2 linked regions of the Homo sapiens genome follow. The protein of the gene in region 2 purifies or fractionates together with the protein of the main gene of each other region. This does not show direct contact. Each region holds a gene or a part of one and is shown on either strand. Other genes may lie near its edges.

The links. The genes of interacting proteins can lie anywhere in the genome.
Region 1: the proteins of TM7SF3 (region 2) and TRAP1 fractionate together in Homo sapiens (co-fractionation; one large-scale study listed by BioGRID). This does not show direct contact.

What each region holds. Positions count from the first base shown.
Region 1 is NC_000016.10:3,662,025-3,665,524, reverse strand, and holds part of TRAP1 (heat shock protein 75 kDa, mitochondrial isoform 1 precursor), read left to right. Parts: intron 1-63; exon of another isoform or gene 64-1,065; coding exon 1,066-1,251; exon of another isoform or gene 1,252-1,962; coding exon 1,963-2,101; exon of another isoform or gene 2,102-2,557; coding exon 2,558-2,643; exon of another isoform or gene 2,644-2,879; intron 2,880-3,392; coding exon 3,393-3,500.
Region 2 is NC_000012.12:26,993,885-26,997,384, forward strand, and holds part of TM7SF3 (transmembrane 7 superfamily member 3 precursor), read right to left. Parts: intron 2,979-3,500; coding exon 2,858-2,978; intron 1,525-2,857; coding exon 1,353-1,524; intron 1-1,352. UniProt on the Homo sapiens protein: Involved in the inhibition of cytokine-induced death of pancreatic beta cells. Involved in the promotion of insulin secretion from pancreatic beta cells.

The DNA of each region.
Region 1 (3,500 bases), on a different chromosome or scaffold from region 2:
GGCCAGTCGTTCAGTTAATCCAATAGTGGATGGCTGAAAAACGAAACATTTGTTCCATAAACATTTTTTGTCCATTTTTTATTGAGATACAACTTACATAGCATCAGATTCACAGAATTCACCTTTTAACACGTAAAATTCAGTGGCATTTAGTGCATTCACAGTGTGGTGTGGCTGCCTCCACTGTAACCCCAGAACATTTCATCCCAGGAGCCCATCCCGTGCTGGTGTCCCTTCTCCCCAGCAGCAGGAGGAGGGTGACCACGTGTGTGGGGTCCCAAGGAGGCCGTGTTCTGGTTGTTTGCCGACTTCGGCAGCTTCTGACACAGGCCTCTTCATTCTCCTTTATCTTCATTTGAGTTAACAGCACACAGGTAAGAGTCAGAGACATTTCTAGGTCTTTGTAGGTGTGCACGTGTGACATGTCTTATCAATGCAGACCCACCATGTGTGCAGGGGTGGCCTGGGCCCTGCTGGTTGGGTGTCCAGCTCCTTGCTTTTCCCTCTTTCTGTTTTCCCCCTGCGTCCTTCCAGCTGCAGCTCCCATGAGCTCTAGAGGTCACAGCTGCGTTCAGCTGATGGGGAGGAGGGCAAACCCCTCCCCTAAGGGCCCTTCTCCAAATCCCACTGAAACCCACTGGGCAAAGCCAGTCTCTGCCATAGCCAGCTGTGAGGAGGGCCGGGAACCGTGGACTTCACCCGTGTCCGTGTGCCCACCAGAGACTGACTCTGTCACTGAGGGCAGAGGGAAGACGCTGGGTCCAGGCCGGGCTCTGCTGTTGGGTGGGGTCCCCTCCCAGGGCGTGGTGCGCGTAGCTCCCTGGAGAGCCCCTGGGCCACCTGGGGCAGGAGGTGCTTCCTAAGCCCCCAGAGCTCCCAAAAGGGGCCTGATGGGCAGAGCAAGGCCTGCTCTCGGACAACCCCCGAGTCCACTACCGTCCCTCGGGTCAGGGCCAGCCTGGAGTGCCAGGAGGCCATGGGCATCGGAGGGTTTGCGCCCAGTTAGTTGGGCAACATTGAGCCCATGGGCCTGGAATAAGTGGTGACCTGCCCCGTCCCTTCTAGGAGGACATAGCAAAGCTGCTGCGCTACGAGTCCTCGGCGCTGCCCTCCGGGCAGCTAACCAGCCTCTCAGAATACGCCAGCCGCATGCGGGCCGGCACCCGCAACATCTACTACCTGTGCGCCCCCAACCGTCACCTGGCAGAGCACTCACCCTACTATGAGGCCATGAAGAAGAAAGACACAGAGGTGGGTGAGCGGTGGGTGGGGCGGGCTCCGGGGGCTGCAACCTGGGGAGGGTCTTGACCTTCTCAGCTCTGTGCTGGGTGAACCTGCCCAAGACTCCGGGCAGGGCTGCACAGTGGGTCAGGGTCACGGGCACAGAGGCCGGACCGACTGTGACGGCTGTTTCCCACTTGGAGGTCACATGTGGTTTTTTTTGTTTGTTTTTTGTTTTTTTGAGATGGAGTCTTGCTCTCTCGCCCAGGCTAGAGTGCAGTGGTGCGATCTCGGCTCACTGCAACTTCCGCCTCCTGGGTTCAGGTCATTCTCCTGCCTCAGCCTCCTGAGTAGCTGGGACTACAGGTGCACACCACCACACCCAGCAAATTTTTGTATTTTTAATAGAGACGGCATTTCACCATGTTGGTCTCGAACTCCTGACCTCATGATCTGCCTGCTTTGGCCTCCCAAAGTGCTGGGATTACAGGCGTGAGCCACTGCACTCAGCCACATGTGGATTTCTTTATGCGTGGAGTGCTTCTGCCTTGAAGGCAGTCAGAGCCTTCCTTAGACCCAGGTGTCGTAGTAACTGTCATGCAGGCCTAGGAACCCCAACTGCCCCGGTGTTCCCCAGTGTGGCCCGCTTGGCTCCCCCAGCCCTCCTGCCGCCCTCATCCTTTCTTCTGTGGTGGCTGGAGGCCCCCGGGGTCTGATGGAGCTGCTCTTGGCCACCTGCAGGTTCTCTTCTGCTTTGAGCAGTTTGATGAGCTCACCCTGCTGCACCTTCGTGAGTTTGACAAGAAGAAGCTGATCTCTGTGGAGACGGACATAGTCGTGGATCACTACAAGGAGGAGAAGTTTGAGGACAGGTCCCCAGGTCGGCATCCCCTGCTCTCTAGGCGTGGGGCTGGTTTCCACTCCCCGCACGCCTCTCCTGCCCCGCAGCGAGGGCTTCCTTTGGGTTTTCGTCAGTTGACCTGGGCTCAGCCACCCCCGAGAAGAGCCTTGTGGGAGCACCCTGGTGACTGGAGGAAGGTGCCTCCTGGTTTAGATATCAGGGGTCTGTCCAGTGCTCCTGCCACGGTGGCTTCTGGAGCTGGCCCAGCTTCTTGAGAGGCTGTGTATTTTTTTAAAGCCCTAACCAAGTTGTATGGGCCTCAGGCAACCTGAAGCATCCTTTGAGGTTTTACTTTTAGATGAAAAGCATCTTGCTAGCTTGTGTCTCCATCCTGGTGGGAGAGGAGGTGGGAGCTGGAAGCATGCTGCGTGGCCCCCATGGAAGCCGGGGAGTTGGGATGCAGGCCTGAGCTCCCTGTCGCCTGCTCTTCCGCAGCCGCCGAGTGCCTATCAGAGAAGGAGACGGAGGAGCTCATGGCCTGGATGAGAAATGTGCTGGGGTCGCGTGTCACCAACGTGAAGGTGAGGCTTTCCCGGGGATGGACCACCACTTGGCCGCAGTGTCCCTAACAGGCTGGCCAGCTGGTGGCTCCCAGTACCTGGCCCGTTGGGTGTCCTTCCAGCAGCAGCAGAAGCCCTTGGTGTCAGGTGGAGACCCTGTGGGTCCCTGCTCGGCACGTGTTGCTCGGGAGTGCCGCTGAGGCAGGAAGGCCGTGTCTTTCTCCCAGCCCTGCTCCAGAGCAGGTGTGAACTGAGAACTGAAAAACCAGCATCCTGAGTGGGAGCTGCAATGGCTGAGGACGTGGGGGTTCCAAACAAGGGACATGCTACCCCAGCCCTCAGGAGCTCACATGCTCACTTGGGTGCTTAGTCGGGGGTTTTGGGTGGGCTTCAGAGAGCTAAGACTCCCCCCACCAACCTGTCTAGCTCAGAGTGAGAAATGAGCGTCCCATGCATGGTCACTTGGAGGAAGGGGCCTCATGCAGGGTGGGCTGGCATGGAGCAGAGGACGATGGATTCGGGCAGCTCCTGGAGGCAGCAGCGGGGCACCAGGGTGGTGGAGCCCCTCGGGCACAGTATCTTTGCGTGGGGCATCAGCTCAGGGCCCACAAGTTAGTGGGTAATGGGGAGGGAGCAGCGCTGGTCCAGGGGAGTCCTTGAGACCCCGCCTGCTACCTCGTGGTCTGGGTGACCTTCACCCCTGGTAAGATCCTGCCAGCCCTCTCACATTGGGAACCTCTATCACCCTCAACCCCGGGCTTTGCTCACAGGTGACCCTCCGACTGGACACCCACCCTGCCATGGTCACCGTGCTGGAGATGGGGGCTGCCCGCCACTTCCTGCGCATGCAGCAGCTGGCCAAGACCCAGGAGGAGCGC
Region 2 (3,500 bases):
CAGTGGTGGCAACTGAGGAAGGTTTCATTTGTATTTATTCAAGGCTGACAACCACAGTCTTTTTCTTGATTCTTGAACTGCCCCAAATTTGGCAGTGCAAGCCCCTTCAAACAGGCTCCTGAATCTCTTTGACATACCCTCATTAGTCTTTGAGGGTTTCCCCACATTCTGGTACAAAATATTCTTTTAACTAAAAGTTTAAAAGTAACCTACAAAAAGCCTATTATACAAGTTCTTATATTCTTCATAAAAATAATAATAGTATTAAAATGTCATATCTAATAAAGCAACTAATAAACTTTACTAACAGAGCTTCTTATTTTGTGAATAAGCACAATGACGCTGTCTAGAAAAACTCCACCCATCAACCATTAGACTGAAGGATGACCTCATATATTATATTGCTGTTAGGCACTTTTCAAGACATAAAGATAAAATCCTGCCCTCCACAAAAATGATCTATTGCAGTGAGTCTCAAAATTTAATATGCATAAAAATCACCTGAGGGCTGGAGTGCAACAGCACCATCTGGGCTCATTGCAACCTCCACCTCCTGGGTTCAAACAATTCTCCTGCCTCAGCCTCCCAAGTAGCTGGTATTACAGGCATCTACCAACATGCCTGGCTAATTTTTGTATTTTTAGTAGAGACACGGTTTCACCATGTTGGACAGGCTGGTCTCAAACTCCTGACCTCAGGTGATCCACCCGCCTCGGCCTCCCAAAGTGCTGGGATTACAGGCGTGAGCCACTGCACCCAGTCAGAATCACCTGAGGGATATAAAATGCAAATTCTGATTCAGTAGTTCCAGGGTGGAGTTTAAGAATTACAATTCTCACAAACTCCCCAGTGATGCCAATGCCACTGGTCCATGGTCCACACCTGGGGAGCAAGGGTTTACATGGATTCAAAAGCTCAGAGAAGAATTTTACTCCAAGTTAGACTTTGAGTTTGGGTTCAAATATGAATGCCAATGTGTATATCCTTAAGCAGTTTCTCATTATTTTTTTCTCAAAACAATGTAATCTTCATACTTGCCAAAAATGTTTACCCAGTAGTCGTGGGAGTACACAGAAAATTACCACCTCCTTCCATTCACATTTCAGATTACCAAGTCACAGATGTGGCTGCAACTAAAACGTAACATAATTTACATGCATCTCCTCAAAGGCCAACATCATTTTGAGATATCACCAGCAAAGACTCCCAAGATGATAACAAAAGAGAATAAAGTGAGTGTCCCCCAAAAAGGAGAAAAGAGTAAAGAAATAAGATCCTGGTAGCTTCTCCCCTTCTCAACTCTGACAAAGGTGTCACAATCCAGCCACACAAATCATGGGACTCAGATTTACCTTGAGAGCACTGGCCTTCACCTGGGGCACACTGACCATCCTCTGCAGATGCTTCAGCAACATCTCCTCAGTGAGGTCATTCTCAGGCAGAAAATACTGATAGACATCATACTGCAACCTCCACCTGGAGTCCTGGTCTGTCCCAGCGTCACATGGTGGGGGATCTACGCCTCTAAAGTCAACCAACAAAATGAAACATCAGTCTCTTGTGGTGCAAGTCCCATCTATAAAAAGGAACCAAGAGCCCTAATTTCAAACACTTGCAACAATAATTACAATTTAACAGTTCACCTTTTGCAGTGGCAACAATTGGTATTCTGAAGAAAAGTAATGCACTGTTATGGACTGAATGTTTGTGTCTCCCCAAAATTAATATGCTGAGACCCTCACTCCCAGTGTGATGATATTAGGAGGTGGGACCTTTGGAAGGTAATTAGGTCATGAAGGTGAAGCCCTAATGAATCGAATTACTGCCCTCATAAAGGAGATCCCAGAGAGCCCTCTAGCCTTCTTTCTGTCATGTGTGGACACAATGACAACCCAGCAGTCTGTAACCTGGACGAGAACCTTCACCAGAACTCAACTGTGCTGGCATCCTGATCGTGGACTTCTACCCTCTAGAACCATGAGAAAGAAGTTTATAAGCCACCCAGTCTGTGCTACTTTGTTACAGCACCACAAACTAAGACAAACACCAACAGGCAAAGGTGATTACATAACTGGATTCTGATATCAGTCAGGCCTAGAGTAAAATACTACAGCTCTGGGGAGGCAAAAAAATTTTTTTTAAAAAAAAGCTGGGTGCAGTGGCTTATGCCTGTAATCCCAGCACTTTGGGAGGCTGAAGCAGGAGGATTGCTTGAGCTAAGAAGTTCAAGACCAGCCAGGGCAACATAGAAAGACCTCATCTTTGATTTAAAAAAAAAAAAAAGAAGAAGAATATAGCAGATTTGTCATTTGTTAGCAAGTAGGGTAACCTCCATAACCCCTAGGGAAACTTTCTGTAAAATAACAGCAATTGCCCTTCTTCATAAAATTGTTAGGATTAAATGGCAAAGAACATAACAACACTCAGCACCACGGACAATGCACAGGAAGCATTCAAGTGTTCTCAAATGTTAGCTATCATTACTATTAAAGCAGAAACTGAGGCACAGCTTTAATTAAAACAATGAATCTTTATAAAAATAAAAGGATGTTTCAGGGCTACTGAGTGCTATCTATATTTAAAGTGCTTTATAAAAACCAGGATGTATTTTCAAGCTCATAATAGACTCACATCTGGCTCTTCAAATAAAAAGAGTTCACAAGAATGAAGTGGGAAAATATTAACTGTAAATGACAGTCCAAATATTAATAGTGAAGTTTAAATTACATCAATTCCCCCCAAAAATTAACTCAATTTTACTACAGAGAATTAGGGACTTGAGAGAGCTGGTCAAATCTACACAACTGTCGTCATGTATATTCTAAAAGCATTTCTCAGACATGGGAGACAGACGTACCTCGCATAGCCTAGGTTTGCTGGGGCAAACTTGATAGTCGTTTCAAAGAAATTATACTCCAAGTAAATGTTGGGATCAATATCTAAATCGAACTCCAAATTACAGCCTCCAGGGACAGGATCTGGATAAGAAATAGGGAAGTTACTAAACAAACAATTCCTACATATCCAAATCATACTCAGAAAAACAGAACTCTATCTACTCTTACAAAAACTTCCCAAATAGAAGTTAAATATAAACGTAGAGCTTCTAGTCGTATACTATTTCATGAACTGAGGTTAAAGAGGGTAGAGTTAACTGAGGTTCAGGGCCCTAGAGCAGGGCAGAGCCAAAATTTTCTGTAAAAGGCCTAATAGTATTTTAGGCTTTGTCAGTCTGATGGTCTCTGCAGTAACTACCCACCCCAGTCCTTGTGGCAGGAAAGCAGCCACAGGCAATACGTACAGGAAGAGGCATAGCTGTGTTTCAGTAAAACTTTATGTACAAAAACAGGCAGCAAGCTGGATCTGGCTCATGGTCTGTAGTTTGCCAACCTTTCCTCTAGAGTTAAAAAGATCGGCTATTGGTTGACTACTTCTGGCCAGGTTTGGAATGCAGATACACAGTGTGTATATATGTTTCAATATCATGTTGGAATCTTCCT